Regions from separate parts of the Homo sapiens genome. Here regions 2 and 3 are each linked to region 1. The links come from fine-mapping of genetic effects on gene expression. A gene starts in region 1. Each other region holds a variant in brackets. All regions are shown on one strand. Distances are between the middles of the regions.

Region 1 (10,388 bases):
CACTCAGGCTGGAGTGCAGTGGCATGATCACAGCTCCTTGCAGCCTCAACCTCCTGGGCTCAAGCAGCGGTCCTCCCACCTCAGCATCCTGAGTAGCTGTGACTACAGGCACTCACCACCACACCCAGCTATTTTTTTTTTTTTTTTTTTTTTTTTGGTAGAGACAGTCTTGCTTTGTTGCCCAGGCTTATCTCAAACTCCTGGGCTCAAGCTATCCTCCTGCCTCAGCCTCCCAAAGTTCTGGAATTACAGGCATGAGCCACCTTGCACCTGGCCTCTTTTTTTTGTGTGTGTGAAATTCTAACAAACACCTCTAATGATTCTAACGCAGGTGGTCAGAATACAATCTTAGAAATGTGGGCACACACAGGAATAACTCACCTGCTAACTGACAGCATACATCTGGGTAAGCAGGTGCCCACCACCTCTCTCCAGGTGACTCATTTGCTAATTATAACAGCAATTCTCTCTTGCCATAGTGGAAGAATTTGAGCCAGGGCCATATTTCAAGCTGTCTGCCTCTAGCCTTCCTCACTCCACCCCACGACATGCACTTGCATGCGCACACACCTGCTCATAGGAGATGGGCGCCTGCTTCTGGTGGGACAGCTCCATCAGAGTACTCAGGTCTGTTCGCAGGTCTGTCTTGCAGCCAATGAGCAAAACGCGGGTGCTGGGACAATAATCTAGGATTTCTGTCCTCCACTGAGGGGTGGAGCAGGAAGAAGGGTAGGAGAAGGAGGAAGGAAGGAGAGTTAGTGGCAGACAGATACCAGGAGAAGCTTGGCTGGCAACGTCACACACATCACCTCACTCATCACCAGCCCAGTCCTCCCTCTGAGTCACAGCATCACCGTTGCACTAATTACATCATTTTCCTGCCCATGAGGCCTTTGGGGCCCCCAGAGTGCTGACCCAGGAGCCTGTTCCCCCAGTCTATGGCTCAGTCACCAGAGAGGGCACAAGGGCAATTCTCCTCCCACTCTCTGCCAACCATATAGGCATGGATCTGCCCCCTCACCCCAAAGGGCCTCACAAGTCCAGAATGCCAGGGGGAAGCCAACCAGTCTCTTCTCAAGGGAAGAACATGATCCCAGCATCTTCTATACTATGCTAGATACACAAGGTTTCCTAGGACTCCTCAGCATTGGTGGATCTGCCCAGACCTAAGCATTTCATACCAGCAGCTCAGCTCAGACCTGCCTGGCTTGCCCATTCTCAGTGGGACTGGGATCAGGGTCTATAGAAGCTGCCTCCAAAAGGTCCCATGCCTGACCCTCATACCGTATCACCTAAAGGTTCTCTGACTCTCCGTCCTCTGCTTCCTGAGTCTTCAATACCACCCTCCCTTGCGGGGCCTCTGGCAAGGCAGCATGGGATAACAAAAAGGGCGGGAGGCAGTGGGGTAAGGAGACCCAAGTTCCAGTCCCAGAGCTGTAGCTAATGGTGTGGCCTTGGGCAAATCTCTTCCTTCCCTGGCTTCCATTTCTTGATGTTATACAAGAGGGCATTCATGACAAGGTCCCGATTCCTTCTTGGTCCTCATGCTGAGTTAGAGATTAGAGAGTTGATCTAGTCTTACCTTCTTGAGTGCGCTGTCCACTGTCTCTGGACGGCTGATGTCAAAACATAGTAATACTGCATCCGAGTCGCTGTAGCAGAGTGGACGGACATTATCGTAGTAGGGAGATCCTGGTGTAGGCCAGAAAGAGCTGATGGTGAGCCATGGTGTTTTCCTTCCCCAATAGGCCTAAGCCCTAAAGCCCTGGGAATACCATCCTCAATCCCTGAGGATCCACCCATCTCCCAGGGGGAATGTACTGCGGCTGGAAGCTTGGGACCTGACTGTCTGCCAGAAGGTCATGAAAGAATATCATCCCCCTTAGTCCAGAAAAAGGGAAAGAAGACAAAATAAAGTGGGTGGAGTATAATTTGGCCCTGTTTGGGTCTCCTACAGCAGGCTTAATTGGAGATCTACTAGTTTTCTGAGTCCCAGAAGATGCTTCCAGCCCTGCAGAGAGACAGCACTTATTTCAGGGCTTCTCTCTTCTAGAGCCTGCCTGCTGCCCAACTTCACTCCCTTCTGCTCCAGGGTCTCCCCAGTGAAGAGAAAAACCTCCTTGTTACATAACCTGCCTGCTGCTTTTCCATGGGGTCAGAACTTTAGGAGGCTAGCAGGGGAGGGAGAGAATCAAGGGTTCAGTGCCCCACTTCTCCACCCACCCAGATCGGCTTACACTGAAAAGGGCAAAAGGAAAGCTGTACCTCCTGACCGCCCCACATCTCAGGAAGGCAGTCTCAAAGACAGCAGCACCGATGGCTGGGGATTTAGAGGCTAGAGCAAGAGTCCTTCGTTGGAAGGGAAATAGGCAATGCAGACCCAGGTGGTCCCATATGGGAGAATGCTAGGAGCTGAGCCTGCCCCCTCCACCCTGGGGAAGGAGCAGTAGCGGATTTGGAACCCAGACAATCCGTGCTCAGAATAGCAAGCAGCCCCTCTCCCTGCACCACAATCGCCATGGAAACTGGGGGGAATCCAAGCTGGTGGGGGGATGTTGGTCATTAAAAAAAGGAATACAGGGGAGTTGGGATAGCTGCCTGCTCCTTCAGCAAGCCTCCTCCATCCCTTTCTGAGGTGGGGTCTTACCACTGCAGCACTGAGGAGCGGAAGCACTGCAGCACTGGGGAAGGGGGAGGGGAGGAGGCCTCCATTTTGGCTCCAAGCAATCCCCCTCCCCTAAGACTAGCAAGTAAATAATGGGAACAGGGTCAACCCTGAGCCCAACATTGGGAAACCCTATCCCACACACCATGGCCACTTCCTCCTTCCTTATGGGAACCTAATCTGAAAGAGGGAGTTTGAGAATAACTGACAGCCTTTATCCTTTCGGAAATTGGGGGTGGGGGTGTGACACAGGGAACAGAGACTACACTTGCTGATTTTCCATGATCTGGTTTGGGATTTGAGGGCTGCATTCTGACTGTCAAAGGAGGGAGGAGGTGGGGGGAGGGCGTTTGGGCGGTGGTAGTGAAAAGAGATGAGCTGCAGTAAGATTCTGGGAAGATTGGAAGGTGGGAGGGTACAGCAGATGAAAAACCAAAAATTATACATCATGCCATCAAGCTGCATTCTAGCCCAATCTTGCCAGCATAGCACAGCCCAGGAGAACCAGAACGCTGCCTCCCAAGCCCTGAAACTGCAACAGGGAAAAGCATACCAGATTGGGGAATTTTTGTTTGGGGAGGAAAGGCTCATTGTCTGTCTAACCATTCCCTAGCCCCAATCTTTTCAGACCTCAGAATTAGAGCATGGGAACAACAGCTGTTGAAGGAGCAGGACAGCATATTTATTATATGTAGCAGGAAACACCTAGTGATTTACGGTCCCTTTTTAAACTCAGCCTGAATATGCATTTTTGGGGAGGGGTGGATTTTATTTTCTTTCTCTTATTCCCGGCTTTTACTCCTTAATTATGACTCTGAGCCAGTCTATTGAAAAAGGTCTGGGGTAAAGAGATAATGGGAAGGGGTCAGAATCAAGGCAAAGGATAGCCTAGCACTAAGGGCTTGGGGCTGAGAGGCTGGAAAAACATTGTTTCTACATTCTAGAGAGACAGGGCATATTCTACCTCACCCCAGTAGAGGGAAAACAGTCAGAGCCAACCTCCCCTCTGCCCTGCCGGCCACTATTCACAACTGACTATGCCCTATATTAAGCCATCTCCCCCAACTTCCAAAACATCGATGATGCATTGCTTCATCCCCGAGCTGCAGCGGTGTGACGAGTGGGGCTGAGCTGCGGCAGGAGGACAGCAGTGGCCCAAGATGGAATGCAGGAGACAAAACTGAGTCTGAGCAACCTTTCCCCAAAGCAGACTTGTCTCTCCGCCCCAACCACGCTGCCTCCAGCAGCACTGCCTCTTGCCTCTTATTTGGCTTTGCTCTGGGGAAGTAAAAGGTGTGTGTGTGTGTGTGTGTGTGTGTGTGTGTGCGCGCGCGCGCGTGTGTGTGCATGTGTGTACGCGTGCATGTTGGGTGGTAGGGAATGGAAATGGAGAAGTCCTGTTTTACTGCCCACCCCCAGGACTATTCATGGGTCCCTTCACCTCACCATCCCAGCCCTCTAAAGGGTGGAACCAGACCCAGGGAAGAGAGTGGCTCCTGGGGTTCACCCACTCTGCACCCTTGGACCATGCAACTGAGTCCACCAACTGTCAGCCCTCCCCACAACTAATGAGTCTTCAGATCCTCTTTTTTCACTTCTCCCCACCAAAGGGGAAAACAATTTCTAAAAGACAGCAGCTACACAGCAGACCAGTAGGGGTGGGAAAGGGGTATTTGGAGCAGAATTCTTACCTGAGGTATCCCAGAGACTAAGCTCCACCCTCTGTTCCTCTGTCTCCAAACAGGCTGTGTAATTTTCGAACACGGTGGGCACATAGGTCTGTGAAAAGAGAGGAAACATTCACCCCATGCACCCCTACCCTCAGATCCCCTGGTTAGTGCTGGCTACACACGCACTCACCAGAGAGACAGTAAAGTCACAGGAGACAAGAAACCAGAGGAGATGCCTGGGGCAGGAGGGAAGGGACTGTGGAGGACCAGGCACTTTGCTCTGCAGCAGTGAGAAATGTGAATGACACCCCCCCACACCACCACACCAGGGGTAAGCCCCCCATATCCTAGGCGATCAGGGACACACACACACACAGATTCCTCCCATCCCCAGATTTGTGTTTCCCAATTTGAGAGAGCCACAGGCCAAAGCCAATCCTAGCTCATCTCCTCTCAAACCCCTCCCGGCCAGGTGAACAGAGGGGCTGCAGAAGCCTGCCTGAAGGCACAGGCATAGAGCCTTTGAGGAGCAGGTGAGCGGATAGGCAGGGATTACGTCAAGAAGAAACCCCAGACTTTCAAATGCCTCCAGTGCCCTCACCTGAGAGCAGACTCCAGGGACGCAGGAAGGTGGAGGGGATCTGATGGGTCCTCTGGGTGAAGAGGTGAGGAGGAGCCAGCGGGGCGGCAGAAGTGGAACAGGTCTCAGGGGAAGCTAAGGCAGGGCAGTCCTCCAGCCAAAAAGCAGCTGAGGATGGTAAAGCCTCAGAAAGCGGCTGAGGATGGGCTGGGGCTGGGGGAGCCACGTCTCCTGAGCAGGTGGAAATCTACCCCAAGGCGGGCAGGCAGGGAGAAAAGCCGGCCAGCGGGCGGGCGGGCAGCTCACCTCTGGATAGCAATCCTTCGCTAACACTTGCAACATCGCGGTCTTCCCACACTGCACGTCCCCGACCAGAACGAGCTTACATCTGGCCACGACTGGCTGGGGGGCCCGTCTCTCCTTCATGGTTGCAGTGTCCGCGGGACTTGAACTTCGATTCAGAAGGGAGGGTTGCGCCAGGTGCGTCTCAGCACGCCAATCAAGCCAGATTCCCTGCCTCCCTCCAACTGAGGAGGAGGCCGGCACAGCCGCCTTTTATTTTTCTGGCTGAGCCAATCACAAGAGGAGGCGGACTCTGTTACGCCCAATCCCTGAGGTGGGATTCCCTCCAGCAGCCAATGGATCTGAGGATCTGAGTCAGCGCCCCCTTCCTCCCTTCTCTTTCTCTTAAAGCTGCACCGTTGTTTCCCCCTGAAAGGGGATTCCCAGGTTGTTTTGCATTTGTATTAGGAAGTGGAAAGGGTACTGGAAGCAAAATGAAATGATCTGGAGTGTCTACCAATAAGTGTCAGAAAAACAAACTAGCTATGGAAGCAGGAAGTGAGGTCAGGCTGGAGTTGCAGGGACTGTCCCGGGTGGGTTACAAAAGCAGGACCTGCTTAGACTATAGACAGGTGTGTGTGTGTGTGTGTGTTTTGGAGGAGTAGGGGATGGGGGAGGTGGCCCAGAACTTCTCTGACATTTTTTTTCTTTTTTTTCCTTACATCTTTTGTTTTAAATAGAGACAGGGGTCTCACCATGTTATCCAGGCTGGTCTTGAACTTCTGGGCTCAAGCAATCCGCCTGTCTCAGCCTCCCAAAGTGCTGGGACTACAGACATGAGCCACAGCGCCTGGCCTGATGTCTGACTTTTTTGTTTTTTCTAATTCCCATCCAAACCAGTTCTTACTTCCCTTTATTTCCCCTCCCAATATCAGCTCCTGCTGTACCTCTTTTATTTATTTATTTATTTATTTATTTATTTATTTATTTATTTATTTATTTATTTTGAGATGGAGTTTCGCTCTTGTTGCCCAGGCTGGAGTGCAATGGCACGATCTCAGCTCACTGCAACCTCCATCTCCCGGATTCAAGCGATTCTCCTGCCTCAGCCTCCCGAGTAGCTGGGATTACAGGCATGCACCACCATGCCCAGCTAATGTTGTATTTTTAGTAGAGACGGGGTTTCTCCATGTTGGTCAGGCTGGTCTCGAACTCCCGACCTCAGGCGATCCGCCCGCCTTGGCCTCCCAAAGTGCTGGGATTATAGGCGTCAGCCACCGTGCCCGGCCTGTGCCCCTTTTAAAGCCTTCTCTTCTTCAAGAATCACCTTCACCACCAAAGACAGAGAGAGAGAAAGAGAAAGAGAAAACTTTCTAGAGTCATCCATAAAAAAAACACACAGCACCTGACCCAGTGATGGGCAGAGAGAAATGAGGGACTCTGGCAAGTGGGGGTGGGAGAGAGGAAGAAGACAAAGCAAACACAGTCACTGTTTGGCCAGACAGCCTCTCACCCATGCCTAGCAGAAGCTGCTTAGGGGTGTTTGTTCTGCGGCCTAGGCTCAGCTTCCTGGATGAATCAGGCACAGGTCCAGTTCCATGTTAACGCCCACTGAAACTGACGCACTAATGTGTGTCACCTGGTTAAAGTCCAGACTGGGCCCAGGATTTTGGGATTAGAAGCTGGAGGACAATCTAAGGTTGAGATGAACTACATAAATTTTTTTTTTTTTTTTTTTTGAGATGGAGTCTCGCTCTGTTACCCGGGCTGGAGTGCAGTGGCTTGATCTCAGTTCACTGCAACCTCTGCCTCCCGGGTTCAAGCAATTCTCCTGTCTCAGCCTCCCGAGTAGCTGAGACTACAGGCGCACGTCACCATGCCTGGCTAATTTTTGTATTTTCAGTAGAGACAGGGTTTCACCATATTGGTCAGGCTGGTCTCAAACTCCTGACCTTAAGTGATCCACCCACATCGGCCTCCCAAAGTGCTGGGATTACAGGCGTGAGCCACCGCGCCCAGCCGAGCTTCATAACTTCTTAACAGCCCTGACTGATGGGGCCCCTGTATTTTGGGGAGCCTCTACTAGACAGAACTATGGGCTGTCCACAGCTTAAATAAACCACTGATTGTCCAGGAATCAAGACCGTACAAATAAGGGCTCCTGGAGATTTGTGATTGAAGGAAGACCAACTTTGGGCAAAATTGAGAGTAGTCCCTTTCCCTTGTCAAGCCCAGTGTCTCCTGGGCCTTGTTTCATCTGAGCTTTACTTTTTTTTTTTTTTTATACAGAGTCTTGCTCTTTCACCCAGGCTGGAATGCAGTGCCACAATCTCGGCTCACTGCAAACTGTGCCCGCCGGGTTCAATCGATTCTCCTACCTCAGCCTCCCGAGTAGCTGGGATTACAGGTGCCTGCCACCACACCCAGCTAATTTTTGTATTTTGAGTAGAGATGGGGTTTCGCCATGTTGGCCAGGCTGGTCATAAACTCCTAACCTTAGGTGATCCACCTGCCTCGGCCTCCCAAAGTGCTGGGGTTACAGGCGTGAGCCACTGTGCCCCAGCCTGAGCTTTACTCTTAATTCACAGTTGTTGCTGCCCCACCCAGGGATAGTTTCCCTGTGATAAAGGATGCTTGAAAGCCTTTCACAGACCCAAAGGGACAGATCTCTAAGAATGAGATTTCTAGTGCCCACCACAGGCAGTAGGAGAGTGGATGTTGTTTTGAGAATACAGCCTAACCAGTGTTCCTCCAGTCAAACCTCGTCGTGGCTCTGGGGCCAAGGCCTATACCTGCTCTCCACCCATGTCCTAAGCTCCATTCACTTCCAGGGATGGGGAATGGCCTGAGGGAAACTTCAGGGTGGAAAGGCCAGATGTTACCATTAGCTGGCTGCCGTCTCTCCCAGGCTTTCTGAAGGTTTCTGCCCTTTATCTCCCCTCATCCTCCACCCTCAGATAATGTTCTGTGGATAGAATTTGTCCTCTTCTTGCCCTTTTCCAGCAGCCTGACAGCCTCTGTGAGCTGTCTATAAGTGGGGTTTGGGATAGTTCCAGGAACAGCTGTAAGATCATAGACTGCCTCAATCTGGAGTCCTTTCCCTCAGCCTGACCTTCTCCTTCTGTATCCTCCTGTCCCCTACCTTCAGTCTCATCTGGGCTTAGTTCTGGAAGCATCAGTAGAGTTCCTATGCATCCTCTTTTTTTTTTTTTTTTTTTCCGAGACAGAGTCTTGCTCTGTTGCTCAGGCTGGAGTGCAGTGGCACAATCTCCGCTGACTGCAACCTCCGTCTCCCGGGTTCAAGCGATTCTCCTGCCTCAGCCTCCTGAGTAGCTGGGATTACAGGCACGTGCCACGATGCCCAGCTAATTTTTGTATTCTTAGTAGAGACGACGTTTCCCCATGTTGGCCAGGCTGGTCTCAAATTCTTGACCTTGTGATCCGCCTGCCTCGGCCTCCCAAAGTGCTGGGATTACAGGCATGAGCCACCGTACCCAGTCCCCCATACATCCTCCTAACCCTTAACTGAGTTCCCTCCAATCACAACCCCACAGGTGTTAGCCTTCTCTCCATGTTCTCTACCAGCCTCCCCCTACACACACCATTCATCCACCACTCCAAATAAACTTTCAGAATAAGTAAAAATTGTTCCTGCTAAGCAAACAGCTTCTTCTGGCTTCTAAGAACATTGCCATTCCTGAGCTCCTCCAAGACAGAAATTCTGAGAGCTGGTGCCAACACTGATTCTTCCCTGGGTGGCTGCATTTCAGGGTCAAGTAGCAGAAGGCCCGAGCCATTATACAGAGCAGCCTCCACCATGGCTGAGGCCCAAGATGTGTCTCCAAGGATATTTTGTGGGTCATATGTTTATGAGTTTTGGTGGAAAGGGTGTTATGTGTGTGAAAGCGTGTGTGTTAGATCAGTGGGCAGGGAGGTAACAGGAAAAGGATGGAACTGAAGTTCAGCAGGTCTAGGCCTTGGACCTCGCTCTGCCTTTAACAAGCTGTGTGCCTTTGGGTAAGTTACTTCCCTCTCTGGGTGCCTATTTCCTTAAATGCAATGTGAGGGATTTAACTAGAGAAGAAGTTTTTAGATGTTATTTAGTTTATTTATTTATTTATTTTTTTGAGATAGAGTTTTGCTTTTGTTGCCCAGGCTGGAGTGCAATGGCACGATCTTGGCTCACCTCAACCTCGCCCTCCCGGGTTCAATCGATTCTCCTGTCTCGGCCTCCCAAGTAGCTGGGATTACAGGCATGTGCCATCACACCCAGCTAATTTTTGTATTTTTAGTAGAGACGGGGTTTCTCCATGTTGGTCAGGCTGGTCTGGAACTCGTGACCTCAGGTGATCCACCCACCTTGGCCTCCCAAAATGCTGGGATAACAGGCGTGAGCCAGCGTGGTTGGCCTAGATGTTATTATTATTATTATTATTTTAGCACTTAGATTCTCTCCTCCAAATTTGTTTAAACCTCTTTTAAATAACTTTATTTCAAACTCCATAGCCAAGACCAGGTGTTGTGGCTCACACCTATAATCCCAGGATTTGGGGAGGCTGAGGTGGGAGGATCACTTGAGCCCAGGAGTTCAAAACCAGCTTAGGCAATAGAGTGAGACCCCATCTCTACAAAAAAACTTTAAAAATCAAATAAAAGTCTGTAGCCAGATTAATACATTAAAGTGGCTCTTCCGGGCCAGGCGCAGTGGCTCACACCTATAATCCCAGCACTTTGGGAGGCCAAGGTGGGTGGATCATTTGAGGTCAGGAGTTCGAGACCAGCCTGGCCAACATGGTGAAACCTCATCTCTACTAAAAATACAAAAATTAGCCAGGCTGGTGGCGGGTGCCTGTAATCCCAGCTACTCAGGAGGGTGAGGCAGGAGAATAGCTTGAACCTCGGGAGGCAGAGGTTGCAGTGAGCTGAAATTGCGCCACTGCACTCAAGCCTGGGCGACCGAGGGAGATGCTGTCTCAAAAAAACAAACAAACAAACAAGCAAACAAACGAAAAAAGGAAAGGTGGCTCTTCCCTATCAAGATCAGAAAAATTTAAAACAAGGTTATAGTTGAAAACATTATGCCAAGGTGGAAGAAGCCAACCACAAAAGACCATATAGACTATGTCCATTTATATGAAATGTCCAGAATAGGCAAATCCGAAAAGACAGAAAGTAGGCTAATAGTTGCCTG
Region 2 (10,388 bases), 310 kb after region 1:
CCACTGTACTCCAGCTTGGGCCACAGAGTGAGACTCCATCTAAAAAAAAAAAAAAAAAAAGAGATATGGTCACATAATCCAATTTCATAAGAAAATATGTACACTCAGCTGGGCGCAGTGGCTCACACCTGTAATCCCAGCACTATGGGAGGCCGAGGTGGGTGGATCACGAGGTCAGGAGATCGAGACCATCCTGGCTAACACAGCGAAACCCCGTCTCTATTAAAAATACAAAAAAAATAGCCAGGCGTGTTGGCGGACGCCTGTAGTCCCAACTACTCGGGAGGCTGAGGCAGGAGAATGGCATGAACCCGGAAGGCAGAGCTTGCAGTGAGCCGAGATGGCGCCACTGCACTCCAGCCTGGGCGACAGAGCAAAACTCAATCTCAAAAAAAAAAAAAAGAAAAGATGTACAATCATCTAGTCTCATGACTTTAAATATCTATATACTGGTAGCTCCCAAATTTGTATCTTCTACCCAGGCCTATTTTCTGAAACACATATCCACATGCCTACTCTACATCTCTGATTGGATGCCTAATAGGCATCCTAAATTTATCATGTCCAAAACAGAACTCTTGAATTCTACTCCACTCCAGTCCACACACTCACATACAGACCACTCCTTTCTTCTCCCAGGATTCTCCATCTGAGTAAATGTTACCTTTATTCACCCAGTTGCTTAGCCCAAAGACCTCTGAGTTATCCTTGACTTCTCTCTCTCACTCTCCTGCTCTAATATTTATCATCTAACGCATCAGCAAATCTTGTCAGCTCTACTTAACAAAACATAACCTGAATGTCTGCCATCTTTCTCTCAGACACTAAAATAATCTACTTCTTACTGCTTTCCTTGTTCTATTCTTGCTGTCTCTTTTTAAAAGTGATCCTTTTTTTTTTTTTTTGAGACCGGAGTTTCACTCTTGATGCCCAGGTTGGAGTACAATGGCGTGATCTCCAGCTCACTGCAACCTCTGCCTCCCGGGTTCAAGCGATTCTCCTGCCTCAGCCTCCTGAGTAACTGGGATTACAGGCGCATGCCACCACGCCTGGCTTATTTTTGTATATATTTTTAGTTTTATTTTTTTTTTTTTGAGATGAAGTCTCACTCTGTTGCCCAAGCTGGAGTGCAGTGGCACAGTCTCGGCTCACTGCAACCTATACCTCCCGGGTTCAAGTGATTCTTCTGCCTCAGCCTCCCGAGTAGCTGGGACTACAGGTGCGCACCACCATGCCCAGCTAATTTTTGTATTTTTAGTAGAGACAGGGTTTCACTATGTTGACCAGGCTTGTCTTGAACTCCTGACCTTGTGATCTGCCCACCTCGGCCTCCCAAAGTGCTGGGAATACAGGTGTGAGCCACTGCACCCAGCCTATTTTTGTATTTTTAATAGAGATGAGGTTTCACCATATTGTCCAGACTGGTCTCGAGCTCCTGACCTCAGGTGATCTGCCCGCCTTGGCCTCCCAAAGTGCTGGGATTACAGGCGTGAGCCACCACGCCCAGCCTAGAAGTAAATCTTAATGACGCTAAGTTAGGCAAAGGCTTCTTAGGTATGACACCAAAAGCATAAGTAACAAAAGAAAAAATAGATACATTTGACCTCATCACAATTAAAAACTTCTTTGCTTCAAAAGACACACTATCAAGAAAGTAAAAAGACAACCCACAAAATGAAGAAAATATTTGCAAATCATATATCTGTAGTGTTATATATTGGTTTTCATCTATGGTTCTTGGCTCATAACTTCCATATCCCTCTTTACAGTCTTTTGTTAGAATGTTGGGTGTGTTGAGCCTCAGGGCAGGCATCTGATGTTCTCCTGCCCTCTGTTCATGCTAATCTTCCCCGACCTTTTTTTCTTTCTTTCTTTTTTATTTTAAGATAGGTTCTCACTCTGTCATCCAGGCTGGAGTGCAGTGTTGTGATCTCGGCTCACTGCAACCTCTGGCTCCTGGATTCAAGCAATTCTCCTGCCTTAGCCTCCCGAGTAGCTGGGATTACAGGCACGCGCCACCACGCCTGGCTAATTTTGTATGTGTTTTTTTAATTAGAGATGGGGGTTTCACTGTGTTGGCCAGGCTGGTCTCGAACTCCTGGCCTCAGGTGATCTGCCCACCTCAGTCTCCCAAAGTGTTGGGATTACAGGCGTGAGCCACCAGGTCCAGCCTAATCTTTCCCGACCTTTCTGATTGTAGGTCTTAATACCCTCCCATGAGAGTGTCCCACCCTATAACCTGGGAGAAGGAATGCTGATGTCTTTAAGCTTCTGTAAAAACCCAAGATGACAGGGCTCAGTGAGCTTCCAGACAGCTGAACACATGGAGGTTACTGGAGGGTGGTGCGCCCAGGGAGGGGATGGAAGCTCCACACCCCTTCCCCCATACCTCACCCTACCTATTCTTTTTATCGGTATCCTTTGCAATATCTTTTATAATAAACTGGTGAATGTGTCTCCCTGAGTGTTGTGAGCTGCTCCAGCAAACTAATCGAACCCAAAGAAGGGGTCATGGGAGCGTCAACTTGAAACCAGTCGGTCAGAAGTCCCGGGGGCTGAACTTGTGACTGGTGTGTGTGGGGTTAGAGTCGGGGGCTGGGGCAGTCTTGGGGACTGAACCCTCAACCTGTGGGATCTGACACTATCTCTGAGTGATAATATAGGAACTGAATTAGAGGACACCCAGCTGGTATCTGCTACTTGGTGTGTGGAGAAATCCTCCACACATTTGGTCACAGAAGTTGTCTTCTGTTTGATGATTGTTGTGGTTTGAGAGTAGAGGAAAAACAGTTTGAAGAGAATTTTTCTCTATACATATATAAGATACTTGTATCTAGAACATATAAAGAACTCTTACAACTCAGTAATAAAAAGACGAATAATAAAATTTTAGGCTGGGTGCAGTGGTTCACGTCTGTAATCCTAGCACTTGGGAGGCTGAGGCAGGAGGATCACTTGAGCCCAGGAGTTTGAGGCCATCCTGGGCAACATAGTGAAACTCCATCTCTTTTTTTTTTTTGAGACAGAGTCTCACTCTGTCACCCAGGCTGGAGTGCAGTGGTGCAATCTCAGCTCACTGCAACCTGCAACTTCCCTGTCCTGGGCTCAAGAAATTCTTGTGCCTCAGCCTCCCGAGTAGCTGGGATTACTAGTGCACGCTGCTACACCCAGCTAATTTTTGTATTTTAGTAGAGACTGGAGTTTCACCATATTGGCCAGGCTGGTCTCGAACTCCTGACCTCAGGTGATCTGCCCGCCTCGGGGTCTCAAAATGCTGGGATTACAGACATGAGCCACCACGCCTGGCCAAGACCCCATCTCTATTTAAAAAATAAAATAAAAATTTTAAATGGGCAAAGGCTCTAAATGTAGACTTCTCCAAAGAAGATACCCAAATGGCCAATAAGCACATGAGAAGGTACTCAAGTCTTTAGCCATCAGAAAATGCAAATCAAAACCCCAGTGAGATACCACTTCACACCCACTAGGATGGCTATAATAAAAGAAGACAGAAAATAACAAGTCTTAGTAAGGATGTGGAAAAATTGGACCTTCTTACACTACTAGTAGGAATGTAAATGATATAACCACTTGGGAAAATATCTTGGCAGTTCCATGAAATATTAAACAGATCTATAGTAAGACCCAGCAATTCCACTTCTAGGTGTATACTCAAGAGAAATGAAAATATATGACTGCACAAAAACGTGTACACAAAAGTTAACAGCAGTATTATTCATAATAGCCAAAAAATGTAAACAACCCATCAATTAATAAAGAAAATGTATATCCCTATAATGGAATATTATTTGGCAATAAGAAGAAGTACTGGCCAGGCACAGTGGCTCACACCTGTAATCCTAGCACTTTGGGAGGCGGAGGCAGGTGGATCACGAGGTCAGGAGTTTGAGACCAGCCTGGCCAATATGGTGAAAGGCAGTCTCTACTAAAAATACAAAAGTTAGCCTGGCATGGTGGCGCATGCCTGTAGTCCCAGCTACTCAGGTGGCTGAGGCAGAAGAATTGCTTGAACCCAGGAGGCGGAGGTTGCAGTGAGCCAAGATTCCGCCACTACACTCCAGCCTGGGTGACAGAGCAAGACTCCGTTCCACACCCCGCTCCCCCAGAAAAGAAAGGAAGTACTGATACATTCTACAATATAGATGAACCTTGAAAACATTGTGCTCGGCCTGGCACAGTGGCCCCTGTAATCCTAGCACTATGGGAAGCCGAGGCAGGCAGATCACCTGAGGTCAGGAGTTCTAGACCAGCCTGGCCAATATGGTGAAACTCCATCTCTACGAGAAATACAAAAATTAGCTGGGCATGGTGGCACGTCCCTGTAATCCCAGCTCCTTGGGAGGCTGAGGTTGGAGAATTGCTTGAACCTCAGAGGCAGAGGTTGCAGTGAGCTGAGATCATGCAATTGCACTCCAGCCTTGGTGACAGAGCAAGACTCCATCTCAAAAAAAAAAAAAAAAGAAAACTTTGTGTTAAGATAACGAAGCCCTATATTACATGATTCTATTTGTATAAAATGTCCGGAATAGGCAAATTCATAGGGACAGAAAGTAGATTACTGTGTTTGCCATGAGCTAGTACAAGGAAGGAGATAATGGGGAGTGACTGCTAATGAGTGCACAGTTTGAGCTTTTGATGAATGACAAAATTAAATTCTGGAACTAGTGAACAGACAAATATAAAAATTTAAAAGGACAGATATTGCACAAGCTGGTGAATATACTAGAGACTTTAAAATTATAAAGGGTGAATTTTATGGTGTGTATATTTTATGGCGTGTATATCAATTAATAATACAAAGAGATTGCTATATTCTAAAATTTCATGCCCTGGTGGTGTTCCTCATCACAATTTGGATCATTGAAATGGAAATATTTCCAAAATAGATGTACTTGAATGGATTAGGAAAAGAAGAAAGAAAGAAGCCAGTTATGAATGCCTGCATATTGTATGCTTCCTTCTACATTAAATGTCCAGAATAGGGAAATATGCAGAGACAGAAACTAGATTAGTGGTTGCCTGGAGATAGTGGTTGCCTAGGTTACAGAGTTTTTTTGGGGGGTGATGAAAATGTTCTAAAATTGTGGTGATCACACACCTCTTAATATACTAAAAGCCATTGAATTGTATACTTTTTTAAAA[CA/C]TTTTTTTTTTACTTTTTTATTTTTATTTTTATTTTTTTGAGATGGAGTATCTGTCACCCAGGCTGGAGTGCAGTGGTGTGATCTCAGCTCACTGCAACTTCCACCTCCCGGATTCAAGCGATTCTTCCAACTCAGCCTCCCGAGTAGCTGGGATTATAGGCATGCGCCACCATGCCCTGCTAATTTTTGTATTATTAGTAGAGTTGGGGTTTCACTATGTTGGCCAGGCTGGTCTCAAACTCCTGACCTCAGGTGATCCACCCACCTCGGCCTCCCAAAGTGCTAGGATTACAGGCATGAGCCACCTCGCCTGGCCTTGAATTGTATACTTTAAATGGGTGAATTGGACAGTATGTGAATTATATTTCAACAAACCTGTTATATTAGGAAAAGAAAAATCAAGTGATAAAGTGTGAGGGACTGAGTTAGCCTTCAGGTAGGAAGAGTGACTATTAGCCTATCACTGTGCACTGATTTTAACGGCTCAGGATACTTAAAATAGCTACCCAAAATAGCATCTTTGCTCAGATGGTGCTTGAAATTCTCTTCCTGGAGATTTCTTTAAAAGTTGAATCTTTAGTTTCTAAAAATTCCCTGTTTAAATGCCAGTACTTCAGGGAAAAATAACTTCTTAAGCAATCAGCTCCAATTTTTTTGTTTTTTATCTTTCTCTGTTGCCTAAGCTGGAGTGCAGTAGCACTATCACAGCTCACTGCAGCCTCCACCTCCTGGCTCAACAGATCCTCCCACCTCAGCCTCCTTAGTAGCTGGGGCTACAGGCACATGCCACCACGCCTGGCTAATTTTTGTATTTTTTATAGAGTCAGGGTTTCGCTATGTTGCCCAGGCTGGTCTCAAACTCCTGGCCTCAAGTGATACACCTGCTTTGGCATCCTAAAGTGCTAGGATTCAGGCGCGAGCCACCAAGCCTGGCCAATACTCTTAATATTTGATAAAGATCCTATTAGACATCTCTCTAGGCATATACACATATATAATTTTATGTAAATAGAGATACTATATATTGTAGAAAAACAAGACTTGGCATTATGTTTGGTTATGAATCTTTTAGAGGCACTTCTTTTATTTATTTATAATTTGCAAGCCTGAGAAGAGAAAACTAGATCCAGGATCTGTGATTTTTCTAAGAATTACAGAATCTATGTAATCATATGTACTTATTGGTTAAATTCTCATTATTATTATTATTGTTATTATTATTTTTTGAGACAGAGTTTCACTCTTGTTGCCCAGGCTGGAGTGCAATGGCGCAGTCTTGGCTTATTGCAACCTCCGCCTCCCGGGTTCCAGTGATTCTCCTGCCTCAGACTCCTGAGTAGCTGGGATTACAGGCCTGTGCTACCACGCCTGGCTAATTTTTGTAATTTTAGTAGAGACAGGGTTTCACTATGTTGGCCAGACTGGTCTCTAACTCCTGACCTCAGGTGATCCACCTGCCTCGGCCTCCCAAAGTGCTGAGATTATAGGCGTAAGCCACCGTACCCGGCCATGCGTGATTCACTTCTTATTAGCTACAGCAAAAGTGATGAGATGTCACTTCCGATATTACATTACAAAAAGACTGTGACTTTCATCTTGGCAGCTCTCTCTTGCTGTCTTGCTCACTTGTCCTGAGGGAAGCCATTTGCTGTCTGCTACTCTTTGGAGAGGCCCTTGCGGCAAGGAATTGTGGGAGGTTTCTGACCAACAGGCAAAAAGACCTTAAATATCTGGCCTTCAATATCCTGGACACCCAACACCCAAAGGTGCATTGAGCTGTTGTTTCCTTATATAATCCCTAACATGGGAGCCAGTCAGTCTGCCTACCAGGCCTCTGCCTAGGTCCCTGATGTTTTCCCCTTGTGTTATTTCTTGGATACCTGGCCTGATCTCTTTAAGCTCCTTTCTCTAGGGTTAGCTCCTCTTCGTCTTATTACATTGGACTTTCTTTTAATTTTTATTTTATTCATTTAATTTTTTTTTTGAGACGGATTTTTGTTCTGTTGTCCAGGCTGGAGTGCAGTGGTGCGATCTTGGCTTACTGCAACCTCCGCCTCCCAGGTTCAAGCGATTCTCCTGCCTCAGTCTCCTGAGTAGCTGGGACTACAGGCATGTGCCACAACGCCCAGCTGATATTTTGTATTTTTAGTAGAGACAGGGTTTCACCATGTTAGCCAGGATGGTATCTATCTCCTGACCTTGTGATCTGCCCGCCTTGGCCTCCCAAAGTGCTAGGATTACAGGCGTAAGCCACCCTGCCTGGCCTCATTTAATTTTTTTTAAAGATAGGGTCTCCTCTCTATCACCCAAGATGAAGTGCAATGATGTGATCATGGCTCACTGCAGCCTTGACCACCTAGGCTCAAGTGATCTTCCTGCCTCAGCCTCCTGAGTAGCTGGGACTACAGACATTGGCCACCACACTCAGCTGATTTATTTTTTGTAGAGACAGGGTCTCGCCATGTTGCCCAGGCTTGTCTCAAACTCCTGGCCCAAGTGATACTCCTACCTCAGCCTTCCAAAATGCTGGGATTACAAGTGTGAGCCACTGAGCCCAACTTTATACTGGACCTTTTGATTCATTACTTCTGATGCTGGATTGGAAATGGTGGTATGTTACTGTCATTCTCATTTTCTTTTCTTTTCTTTTTTTCTTTTTTTTTTTTTTTGAGACAGAGTCTTGCTCTGTTGCCCAGGCTGGAATACAGTGGCCAATCATAGCTCACTGCACCTTGATCTCCCAGGCTCAAGAGATCTTCCTGTCTCAGCTTCCTGAGTGTCTGGGACTCCAGGCACTGCCACTGCACACAGCTAATTAAATTTTTCTTTTTTCTTTTTTCTTTTTTTTAAGAGAGACTGGGTCGTGTTATGTTGTGCAGGCTGGTCTCAAACTCCTGGCCTCAAGCGATACTCCTGCCTCAGCCTCCCAAAATGTTGATATTACAGGCATGTGCTACTGTCCACGGCAAGTGTCATTTTCTTTCTACAGCTGTTTCCTACCTCCTTACTCCATTTACTAGATGGAAGCCTGCCCTATGTCTCAGGGTTTTTTTGTTTTTGTTTTTTGTGGTTTTTTTTGAGACAGGGTCTTGCTCTGTCGTCTAGGCTGGAGTGCAGTGATATGATCACAGCTCACTGCAGCCTTGCACTCCTGAGCTCAAGGGATCCTCCTGCCTTGGCCACCTAAGTAGCTAGGACTACAGGGCTGCGCCACCACGCCCAGCTAATTAAAAAAAATTGTTTTGACTGGGCACATTGGCTCACGCTTGTAATACCAGCACTTTGGGAGGCCAAGGCAGGTGAATCACTTGAGGCCAGGAGTTCAAGACTAGCCTGGCAGACATGGTGAAACCCAGTTTCTACTAAAATAAAATTACAGGCCAGGCTCGGTGGCTTATGCCTCTAATCCCAGCACTTTGGGAGACTAAGGTGGGTGGATCACGAGGTCGAGAGATCGAGACCCTCCTGGCCAACATGCTGAAACACTGTCTCTACTAAAAATACAAAAATTAGCTGGGCATGGTGGCATGCGCCTGTGGTCCCAGCTACTTGGGAGGCTGAGCCAGGAGAATCGCTTGAACCCAGCAGGCGGAGGTTGCTGTGAGTCGAGATCGCACCACTGCACTCTAACCTGGCGACAGAGACTGTCTTAAAAAAACAAAAAACAAAAAAAAAAAGTTTTTTTGTTTTTTTTTTTTTAGAGATAAGGCCTCCCAAAGTGCTGGGATTACAGGCATGAGCCACTGCACCCTGCCTCAGTCAATTTTTTTTTTTTTTTTGAGACGGAGTTTTGCTCTTATTGCCCAGGCTGGAGTGCAATGGCGTGATCTTGGCTCACCGCAACCTCTGCCTCCCAGATTCAAGTGATTCTCCTTCCTCAGTCTCCTGAGTAGCTGGGATTATAGGCATGTGCCACCACGCCTGGCTAATTTTGTATTTTTAGTAGAGACGAGGTTTCTCCATGTTGGTCAGGCCGGTCTCGAACTCCCACCCTCAGGTGATCCGCCTCCCTTGGCCTCCCAAAGTGCTGGGACTACAGGCATTAGCGACCACGCCCAGCCGCCTCAGTCAATTTTGATCCACTCTACCAGGTATGTCCTAACTCAACTGCAAATCACACTCACTTCCACATTGGCTGCACCATTTATGGTAAGTGAATCCATCCACTTGGTTCATGTACAAAACTATATCTTGACCAAATATAGAACTTTGGATCTACTTTTGTTCACTTTTCTTTATATAATTTTTGTGTATATATTTTTACATGTTCATATGTATATATTTAAGTGAAAACTTTTGGCCTAGCGCTCAAATACTACCCACTTTCTTCAGAGCAGTGGAAAGATGGTCCAATAAATTATCTGATTTTTTTTATCTTAGGCATCTATTTCCATTATAGCATATAATCTTTCACTTAATTGCCAAATTCAAAGCTACACTCTATTTACATATAATTCTTTTTTTTTTTTTTTTTTTTTTTTGAGACAGAGTATCGCTCTGTTGCCCAGGCTGGAGTGCAGTGGTGCAATCTTGGTTCACTGCAGCCTCCATCTCCCCAGTTCAAGAGATTTTCCTGCCTCAGCCTTCCATGTAGCTGGGACTACAGGCATGTACCACCACACCCAGCTAATTTTTGTATTTTCAGTAAAGACAGGGTTTCACTGTCTTGACCAGGCTGGTCTTGAACTCCAGACCTCATGATCCACCTGTGACCCACACTTGGCCTGCCAAAGTGCTGGGATTACAGGCGTGAACAACAGTGCTGGGCTAATTTACATATAATCTTAAATATAGTACTGATAATTATCAAAAACACACTGAGGCCAGGCACAGTGGCTCACATCTATAATCCGTGCACTTTGGGAGGCCAAGGCAGAAGGGTCACTTGAGCCCAGGAGTTCGAGACCAGCCTGAGCAATATAGCTGGACCCCATCTCTACAAAGTTTTTTTTTTTTTTTTTAATTAGCCAGTTGTGGGTGTGTGCACCTGTAGTCCTAGCTACTCAGGGGGCTGAAGTGAGAGCATTGCTTAAATCCCAAATTTGAAGTTACATTGAGCAATGATTGCGCCACTGCAGTCCAGCCTGGGCAAGAGAGCAAGACCTTGCCTCTAAAAAAAATAAATGTAAAAAAACATTGAAACAAATACATTTATGAGGGATTTCCTAAAGAATTTTTATTATTTCATTTATTTAGATTAGTGGTTATAATTATTTTGGATAA
Region 3 (10,388 bases), 20 kb before region 1:
GCCAACATGGCAAAACCCTGTCTCTAGTAAAAACACAAAAATTAGCCAGGTGTGGTTGTTTAGAGAAAAATTTTTTTTTTTTTTTTTTTTGAGACACAGTCTCACTCTGTCGCCCAGGCTGGAGTGCAATGGTGTGATCTCAGCTCACTGCAACCTCCGCCTCCTGGGTTCAAGAAATTTTCCTGCCTCAGCCTCCTGAGTAGCTGGGACTACAGGCGAGTACTGCCACCACTGGCTAATTTTTATATTTTTAGTAGAGACGAGGTTTCATCATGTTGGCCAGGCTGGTCTCGAACTCTTGACCTCAGGTGATACATCCACCTCGGCCACCCAAAGTGCTAGGATTACAGGTGTGAGCCACAGCGCCTGGCCCTCCTTAACTCTTTAATATACAATGAATTTAGCCTACATGGCCACCACCACAAGCCAAGAAGATACTGCTATCTATATTCCCTCATCATTTTTCATTCCTATCAATCCCAACAATCCTTTCCCCATACCTGCTCTAAGCTTAATCTACAAGATAATTCAAACAACCCCACTGAGTTTCTGTTAGGAGCATTCTGTCCTCTGCCTTGAATTCTAACCTATACTTTCAGGGCCTGATAAGAACTCTGTATACAGGCCAGGCACAATGGCTCACGCCTGTAATCCCAGCACTTTGAGAGGCCGAGGTGGCCGGATCACCTAAGGTCAAGAGTTCGAGACCAGCCTGGCCAACATGGAGAAACCCTGTCTCTACTAAAAATACAAAAATTAGCCAGGCATGGTGGCGCATGCCTGTATTCCCAGCTACTTGGGAGGCTGAGGCAGGAAAATTGCCTGAACCCAAGAGGCAGAGGTTGCAGTGAGCCGAGATCGTGCCATTGCACTCCAGCCTGGGCAACAGAACAAAAACTCCATCTCAAAAAAACCCCCAAAGATTCAGAGAAGAATCCATAGATAGAAAAGCTTCAGGCTCCCTCTCCCCTCTCCCCTCTCCCCACGGTCTCCCTCTCCCTCTCTTTCCATGGTCTCCCTCTGATGCTGAGCCAAAGCTGGACCGTACTGCTGCCATCTCGGCTCACTGCAACCTCCCTGCCTGATTCTCGTGCCTCAGCCTGCCGAGTGCCTGCGATTGCAGGCGTGCGCCGCCACGCCTGACTGGTTTTCGTATTTTTTTGGTGGAGACGGGGTTTCGCTGTGTTGGCCGGGCTGGTCTCCAGCTCCTGACCGCGAGTGATCCGCCAGCCTCGGCCTCCCGAGGTGCCGGGATGGCACACGGAGTCGCGTTCACTCAGTGCTCAATGGTGCCCAGGCTGGAGTGCAGTGGCGTGATCTTGGCTCGCTACAACCTCCACCTCCCAGCTGCCTGCCTTGGCCCCCCAAAGTGCCGAGATTGCAGCCTCTGCCCGGCCGCCATCCCATCTAGGAAGTGAGGAGCGTCTCTGCCAGGCCGCCCATCGTCTGAGATGTGGGGAGCGCCTCTGCCCTGCCGCCCCGTCTGGGATGTGAGGAGCGTCTCTGCCCGGCCGCCCCGTCTGAGAAGTGAGGAGACCCTCTGCCTGACAACCGCCCCGTCTGAGAAGTGAGGAGCCCCTCCGCCCGGCAGCCACATCGTCTGAGAAGTGAGGAGCCCCTCCGCCTGGCAGCCACCCCGTCTGGGAAGTGAGGAGCGTCTCCGCCCGGCAGCCACCCCGTCCGGGAGGGAGGTGGGGGGGGTTAGCTCCCCACCCGGCCAGCCGCCCCGTCCAGGAGGGAGGTGGGGGGGTCATCCCCCCACCCGGCCAGCCGCCCATCCGGGAGGGAGGTGGGGGGGTCAGCCCCCGGCCCGGCCAGCCGCCCTGTCCGGGAGGTGAGGGGCGCCTCTGCCCGGCCGCCCCTACTGGGAAGTGAGGAGCCTCTCTGCCCAGTCAGCCGCCCCGTCCGGGAAGGAGGTGGGGGAGGTCAGCCCCCCGCCCGGCCAGCCGCCCCATCCGGGAGGGAGGTAGGGGGGTCAGCCCCCCGCCCGGCCAGCCACCCCGTCCGGGAGGAAGGTGGGGGGGTCAGCCCCCCGCCCGGCCAGCCGCCCCGTCCGGGAGGGAGGTGGGGGGGTCAGCCCCCCGCCCGGCCAGCCGCCCCGTCCAGGAGGTGAGGGGCGCCTCTGCCCGGCCGCCCCTACTGGGAAGTGAGGAGCCCCTCTGCCCGGCCAGCCGCCCCGTCCGGGAGGGAGGTGGGGGGGTCAGCCCCCCGCCCGGCCAGCCGCCCCGTCCAGGAGGTGAGGGGCGCCTCTGCCCGGCCGCCCCTACTGGGAAGTGAGGAGCCCCTCTGCCCGCCCACCACCCCGTCTGGGAGGTGTACTCAACAGCTCATTGAGAACGGACCATGATGACAGTGGCGGTTTTGTGGAATAGAAAGGCGGGAAAGGTGGGGAAAAGATTGAGAAATCGGATGGTTGCCGTGTCTGTGTAGAAAGAGGTAGACATGGGAGACTTTTCATTTTGTTCTGTACTAAGAAAAATTCTTCTGCCTTGGGATCCTGTTGATCTGTGACCTTACCCCCAACCCTGTGCTCTCTGAAACATGTGCTGTGTCCACTCAGGGTTGAATGGATTAAGGGTGGTGCAAGATGTGCTTTGTTAAACAGATGCTTGAAGGCAGCATGCTCGTTAAGAGTCATCACCACTCCCTAATCTCAAGTACCCAGGGACACAAACACTGCGGAAGGCCGCAGGGTCCTCTGCCTAGGAAAACCAGAGACCTTTGTTCACTTGTTTATCTGCTGACCTTCCCTCCACTATTGTCCTGTGACCCTGCCAAATCCCCCTCTGCAAGAAACACCCAAGAATGATCAATTAAAAAAAAAAAAACCCAAAAAAAACAAAATCTGGTGGCAGATGCCTGTAGTCCAGCTACTCAGGAGGCTGAGGTGGGTGGATCACCTAAGCCTGGGGGAGTCAAGGCTGCAGTAAGTTGTGATCACACCACTGCACTCCAGCCTGGGCAAAAGAGACCCTGCCTCAAAAAAATAAATAAAAATAAATAAGAAAGAGAGCTCTGTAATAACTACCAACAGAATCTGTTAAGAGAAATCTACTTTCTTTCTTTCTTTTTTTTTTTTTTTTTTTGAGACAGAGTCTTGCTCTGTCGCCCAGGCTGGAGTGCAGTGGCGTGATCTCGACTCACTGCAGGCTCCGCCTCCCGGGTTCACGCCATTCTCCTACCTCAGCCTCCTGAGTAGCTGGGACTACAGGCACCCGCCACCACGCCCGGCTAATTTTTTGTATATTTAGTAGAGACGGGGTTTCACCATGTTAGCCAGGATGGTCTCGATCTCCTGACTTCGTGATCCACCAGCCTCAGCCTCCCAAAGTGCTGGGATTACAGGCGTGAGCCACCACGCCTGGCGAGAAATCTACTTTCATAAGAAGCTGAGCAAACTCAGGTGCAGAGAAGAAATGGGAGCATTCCCCTAAAGCCCCCTCTCATTCCTTCATGTACCTGGATCGTTTACGGTCCTTGTCCCGTCTGTGCCCATCCTTGTCTCGATCTCGGTCCTTCTTATTCCGATCCCGCTCCTTATCTCGTTCTCGTTCTTTGTGCCGTCGTTCTCTGGAAGACCGCAAATTTAAGAGTTCACTTGGTATTTCCAAAGTATCTTGCTTCACTGCAGCCCTGAGAAAGTTCCTATACTCTCGTCCCAAAGTAATGTTTTACAAATTAGAGAATGTATCTCTCACGGAAATAACGAGGGAATTCTAAGAAGCTTTTATAGATCAGAGATGTACTGTTAAATATTAACGGCAATGACAGGTCACGGA[C/T]TATGTGAACAGATGAACCTTCCTTTTTTATTTTTTTGAGATGGAGTCTCACTCTCACGCCCAGGCTGGAGTGCAGTGGTGTGATCTCGGCTCACTGCAGCCTCTGCCTCCCGAGTTCAAGGAATTGTCATGCCTCAGCCTCCCGAGTAGCTGGGATTACAGATGTGCACCACCATGCCTGGCTAATTTTTGTATTTTTAGTAGAGACGGGGTTTTGCCATGTTGGCCAGGCTGCTCTCAAACTCCTCACCTCAAGTAATCCACCTACCTCGGCCTCCCAAAGTGCTGGGATTATAGGTATGAGCCACCGCGCCCGGCCACAGATGAACCTTCCTTGATAACCCGGACCTTCACCTTACTAGTTCCCTCTCAACTTTTTTTTTTTTTATTTTTAGTAGAGATCAGGTATCACTGTGTTAGCCAGGATGGTCTCGATCTCCTGACCTCGTGATCCACCTGCCTCGGCCTCCCAAAGTGCTGGGATTACAGGCGTGAACCAACCGCGCCCGGCCCCCTCTCAACTTTTAAGAGTTGGGTCACTGAGGAAAACTGAAAACACCTGCAGGTCCAACTGGGCTAGGAGTAGATTAATGTACAAAAAGTAGATGCCTAGCCGGGCGTGGTGGCTCACGCCCGTAATCCCAGCACTTTGGGAAGCTGAGGTGGGTGGATCACCTGAGGTCGGAAGATTGAGATCAGCCTGACCAACGTGGAGAAACCCCGTCTCTACTAAAAGTACAAAATTAGCCAGGTGTGGTGGCACATGCCTGTAATCCCAGCTATTCGGGAGGCTGAGGCAGGAGAATTGCTTGAACCTGGGAGGCAGAGGTTGCAGTGAGCCGAGATCGTGCCATTGCACTCCAGCCTGGGAAACAAGAGTGAAACTCCATCTTTTAAAAAAAAAAAAAAAAAGGCCAGGCGCGGTGGCTCACGCCTATAATCTCAGCACTTGGGGAGGCTGAAGCAGGCAGATCACGTCAGGAGATCGAGACCATCCTGGCTAACACGGTGAAACCTCATCTCTACTAAAAATACAAAAACATTAGCCGGGCATGGTGTCGGGCGCCTGTAGTCCCAGCTACGCACTCAGGAGGCAGAGGCAGGAGAATGGCGTGAACCTGCGAGGCGGAGCTTGCAGTGAGCTGAGATCGCACCACTGCACTCCAGTCTGGGTAACAAACAGAGCGAGACTCTGTCTCAAAAAATAAAAATAAAAAGTAGATGCCTAATACTGGAGGCATCAGAAGAACCAAGAAGGAAGAAATCTGAAACGTACTCTCCCTTCCCATGTAATAACATACAAAGTTACTTTACCTTTCTGCAGATTTGGAACGGGAACGAGAGCGAGAACGGCTGCCTCCTCGACGTCTATCCCTTGAACGATGCCGCTTTCTATCTTTAGATGGGGAAGACTTCCGGTCCCGGTCTCTATCCCGCTCTCTGTCAGGAGTCCGTGATCGCTTCCTTTCCTCCTTGGAAGGTGATGCATCACGGTCCTTTTTGTCAGCCAGCTCTCCTGCCATCTGTAATGAGTAGGAAGAGTACTTACAATGTACTAGGCACTGCTCTAAACTGCTTATATATAATTCAATTACCCTCAAAACAACCCTATGAGGTGGATATATTAGTATGTCTACCGTACAGATGAGAACGGTGGAGCTCAGGTATATAAAGGAACTTGTCTGAGGGCAGACAGGTAGTGGCAGAGTTGCAGGCAGTCTGGCTCCACAGGCCATCGTTACTCACTATATTGTCTCCCTGTAATTCCTTTCAGAGTCTCACTCTGTCACCCAGGCTGGAGTGCAGTGGTGCAATCATAGGTCACTGCAGCTTCAACTTCCTGGGCTCAAGCCATCCTCCTGCCTTGCCTAGCTAATTTATTTTTTTTATAGACAGGGTCTCACTATGCTGCCCAGGCTGGTCTTAAATTCCTGACCTCAAGCAATCCTCCTGCCTCAGCCTCTAAAAGGCTGAGATTACAGGCGTGAGCCACAGTGCCTGGTCGATTCCTTTTTATATATTCATTTCTAAATATGTACAGTGAATATACCATGTTTTTGTAATTAGACTACAAAAGAGTATTAAAAGAAGTGTTAGTGTATGAACAGTGTACCAACTATTTCTAGAAACATCCTATATTGCTTACTTTGAAGTTTATTAGGTCTGCCAACCCACTAGGATCAGTTAGCACTCATACGTCTGAGAGAGATAAATTTTCTTGAGCTCATAAAGAAAGCTCAATGGAGAAAAAAGTTTAACTTTGAGATCTGGATTACGTTATAATTAGCACCACAAGGAAAACCTGAATTTAAGTGGAGAAACACACTTTTACTCAGATTAAAAGAAATGTACCTCTAATTATGCAATGGGAAGAACTTGGTGAAGGGTACACAGAACCTCTATACACATTTTTTAACTTCCTGTGAAACTATAATTATTTCAAAGATATATATTTTAAATACCCAAAACTAGAGGTTGCAGAAGTCCTGATTGACATTCCCTATTCAGATTTTCACAACCTTGGTCATCTGCATAACCCAGTTTTGTGAAAGGTTTCAGCAGGAATTTTTTCTGTCTCCCTCCTACCTGGGAGACACCGAACACCACTCCCACACTGTCAACTCTTCTTTGGGCTATGAACTCTAGTTCAGCCAGGAGCTAAAACTGCAGCAAGCCTGAATCTGCAACCACCTCATCATCATCCCAAAGACTTGGGATACATTTCTCGCAACTTATTTTATCCCCAAATGGTTCAGCTCGAATGGTTCCTTAAGCTTTAGCTTACAAGCCCCTTTCTCATGCCATTCCCTGCCATATATCCTTAAGAAAGATTGTATAAAGATGAGAAAAGAAAAATGAACAAGAAGCACTTTCAAAAGGTGAGGACAACCCATTTTATCTCACAATCACCTGAGAAATGACTGATTGTTCTGTATCAGTACATCATGGCTATCACACAGAAATACCTATGTCTTGGGCTGGGCATGGTGGCTCACCGTGTAATCCTAGCACTTTTGGAGGCCAAAGCGGGCAGATCATGAGGTCAGGAGATTGAGACCATCCTGGCCAACACGGTGAAACCCCATCTCTACTAAAAATACAAAAATTAGCCAGGCATGGTGGCACGTGCCTGTAGTCCCAGCTACTCAGGAGGCTGACGCAGGAGAATCACTTGAACCCAGGAGGCGGAGGTTGCAGTGAGCCAAGATCATACCACTGCACTCCAGCCTGGCAGCAGAGCGTGATCCGTTTCAAAAAAAAAAAAAAAGAAAGAAATACCTATGTCTTGACTGGGTGTGGTGGCTCATGCCTGTAATCTCAGCACTTTGGGAGGCTGAGGTGGGTGGATCGCTTGTCCAGGAGTTCGAGACCAACCTGGGCAATATGGCAAAAACCCATCTCTACTAAAAATATAAAAAATTAGCCACGCATGGTGGTACACGCTACCCAGGAGGCTGAGGTGGAAGGACTGCTTGAGCCCGGGAGGCAGAGGCTGCAGTAAGCCGAGATTGTGCCACTGCACCCCAGTCTGGGTGACAGGGCAAAACCCTGTCACACACCAAAAAATAAAAAATAAAAAAAACACTTACAGCCCTAAGAAAACAATCCCAAAGGAAGGCTATTTTCTCTGTACAGCATCCTGGATTTCATTCATTCTTTCAACAAATATTCACCGAGCACCTACAAGGTGCCAGAAATTGTTGTAGGTAACGGAGACAAAGCAGTAAAGAAAACAAAGTCTCATGCTGGGCGTGGTGGCTCACGCCTATAATCCCAGCACTTTGGGAGGCTGAGGCGGGCAGATCAAGAGGTCAGGAGATCAAGACCATCCTGGCTAACAGGGTGAAACCCCGTCTCCACTAAAAATACAAAAAAATTAGCCGGGCGTGGTGGTGGGCGCCTGTAGTCCCACCTACTCGGGAGGCTGAGGCAGGAGAATGGCGTGAACCCGGGAGGCAGAGCTTGCAGTGAGCCGAGATCATGCCACTGCACTCCAGCCTGGGTGACAGAGTGAGACTCCGTCTCAAAAACAAAACAAAACAAAAAACAAAAAAAAAAAGAAAACAAAGTCTCCTACTTCATAAAGCTTAAATTCTAGTGTAGCGGAAAGGATTTTAAATAGTAATGAATGCTAATGAAGAAAATAAAACAGTGATATGATGGGTAGGGGTATAACAAGAGATAGATGGCTCAGGGAAGAAGTTTTAGTTGACATTTAAGCTGAGACTTGAATGATGGGAAAGAGGGCCATGAAAAGATCAGGGTAAAAAACCCTTGTTAGATACAAGAAATGTGAACTAGCTTAGCATGTTTGTCAGGTTTGTTTTGTTGTTGTTGTTGTTGAGACAGGGTCTCACCCTCTCACGCAAGATGGAGGGCAGTGGCACAATCACGGCACACTGCAGCCTTGACTTCCCAGGCTCAAGCGATCCTCCTGCCTAGGCCTCCCAAGTAGCTGGGACTATAGGCGCATGCCACCACACCTGACTAATTTTTTTTTTTTTTTTTTGAGATGGAGTCTTGCTCTGTCGCCCAGGCTGGAGTGCAATGGCATGATCTTGGCTCACTACAACCTCCACCTCCCAGGTTCAAGTGATTCTCCTGCCTCAGCCTCCTGAGTAGTTGGGATTACAGGCGCGTGCCACACCACGCCTGGCTAATTTTTGTATTTTTAGTAGAGGCGGGGTTTCACCATGTTGGCCAGGCTGGTCTCAAACTCCTGACCTCAGGTGATCCGCCCTGAGTGCCCAAAGTGCTGGGATAACAAGCATGAGCCACCATGCCCGGCCCCAACTAATTCTTAAAATTTTTATTAGAGACAAGGTCTCAATTTGTTGCCCAGGCTAGTCTTGAACTCCTGGGCTCAAGGGATCCTTCGGCCTCAGCCTCCCAAAGTGCTGGTATTACAGGTGTGAGCCCAACTACACGTTTGTCAGTTAAAAACATATTTGTTTGGCCAGGCCTGGTGGCTCATGCCTGTAGTACCAGCACCTTGGGAGGCCAAGGCGGGAGGATCACTTAAGCCCAGGAGTTCGAGACCAGCCAGGGTAATATAGCAAGACTTCCCGTCTATTTTGAACAATAAAATTTTACATTTATAAACAGTTAAAAATCAGCCGGAGGCCAGGAGCAGTGGCTCACGCCTGTAATCCCAGCACTTTGGGAGGCTGAGATAGGCAGATCATGAGGTCAGGAGTTCGAGACCAGCCTGGCCAACAGGGTGAAACCCCGTCTCTACTAAAAATACAAAAATTAGCCAGGCGTGATGTCAGGCATCTGTAATCCCAGATACTCGGAAGGCTGAGGCAGAACTGCTTGAACCCAGGAGGTGCGGGTTGTTGTGAGCCGAGATAGTGCCACTGCACTAGCCTGGGTGACAGAGCAAGACTCCCTCTGTCTCGAGAGAAAAAAAAAAAAAAATCAGCCAGGTGTGGTGGTTCACACTTGTAATCCTAGCACTTTGGGAGGCTAGGGTGGGTGGAATGCCTGAGCTCAAAAGTGCTCAAGAGCTCATAGGCAGAGGCCTGGGAGGAAAATATCGTCCAGGAACACGGCTTGTGCCCCCAGGAGCCAATACTACCTATGGGGCCCATGCCCCTTCGCTCCTGCCTGGGGAGGATCACCTGAGCCCAGGCTGAGGTGGAAAGACTTCTTGACCCTGGGAAGCACTAATGCAGGAGGAATACTGATTCAGGATGAGTTCAGTGAGCTGGGCAGGAGTCAGATAATGAAAATGTGTTACAGGTCAGAGTAGAGTTAACTTGGATTTTAACTGCAATGGGGATCTTAGAAGAGCTTTAAACAGGAAGCAATCTAATACTTTGGTGACTTGCAAGAAAATATATAGCAGAGAGACAGAGTGAAAACACAACCACTGAGAGTGCTATTATGGTACTCTAGGCAAGAGATGGCAGTGGCTTGTTCTAGGAACGTGGCGATGGAGATGGAAAGAAGTAGGCAGCGTCAGAGTATATTTTGGAGGCAAAGCTAACAGGACTTACTAAGGAAGAAGCAGAAAGAGCAGACACAAAGATAGCTCCTAAATTTATAGTTTCAGCAACCTAATAGTTTGTGGTGCCATAGCAAACAAACTGGAGAAGACTAGGGAACGAACAGATTTAAGAGGAAATCAAACGTTTCATTTTGGCCAGGTTGAGTGTGAGAATATCTGTGGAGATTCCCAGAAGGCAAAGAGAAATGCAAATCTGAACTTAGGGGAGAGGGTCTGTAGACAAAAACTTGAGTCACCAATACACAGATAGCTTTTAAAGCCATGGGACACTAAATGATATTACCTAAGTAGGCAGCATAGTGAAAGAAAAAAAATAGAGAAGAAGCTCCAGAATTGAGCTCTGGAACACTTTAACAGGAGTTAGCCACGGGATGAACCAGAGAAAAAGACTGAAAAGAACTAGCAGCCAGTGAGAAAAGACAAAGAAAAGCATGGCAACGAAGAAGCCAAAAACATGTTTCAAGGAGGGAGGGGTCAACTGTGTCAAGTACCACCGAAGTGGAGAGGGAATAAGGGACAGGGAAGTAACCACTGAATTTGGAAAAATGGAGATTATTGGTGACCTTGACAAGAGCTGTTTCAGTTGCATTGCGGGA

What was found.
Region 2: its variant is fine-mapped to the expression of RND1 in whole blood (TOPMed, PIP above 0.99). The same link has a PIP of 0.9 or more in blood mononuclear cells.
Region 3: its variant is fine-mapped to the expression of RND1 in whole blood (TOPMed, PIP above 0.99).

Annotation. Positions count from the first base shown.
Region 1 is chr12:48,860,427-48,870,814 of GRCh38, forward strand. RND1 (Rho family GTPase 1) reads right to left here and starts at 5,444. Exons shown (of 5, transcript NM_014470.4): 1 at 5,222-5,444; 2 at 4,357-4,444; 3 at 1,583-1,692; 4 at 571-705. The coding sequence starts at 5,341. RefSeq lists enhancers at 5,258-5,377, 5,638-5,767.
Region 2 is chr12:49,166,102-49,176,489 of GRCh38, forward strand. No RefSeq gene overlaps it. Among named protein-coding and RNA genes, the nearest start is that of TUBA1A, 18 kb to the right of the region's middle. RefSeq lists silencers at 4,159-4,352, 7,323-7,528. The variant CA/C (reference allele first, on the strand shown) is at 5,164.
Region 3 is chr12:48,840,481-48,850,868 of GRCh38, forward strand. It overlaps DDX23 (DEAD-box helicase 23), which reads right to left. Exons shown (of 17, transcript NM_004818.3): 2 at 5,094-5,302; 3 at 3,460-3,570. The coding sequence starts at 5,302. Among named protein-coding and RNA genes, the nearest start is that of DDX23, 6.5 kb to the right of the region's middle. The variant C/T (reference allele first, on the strand shown) is at 3,780.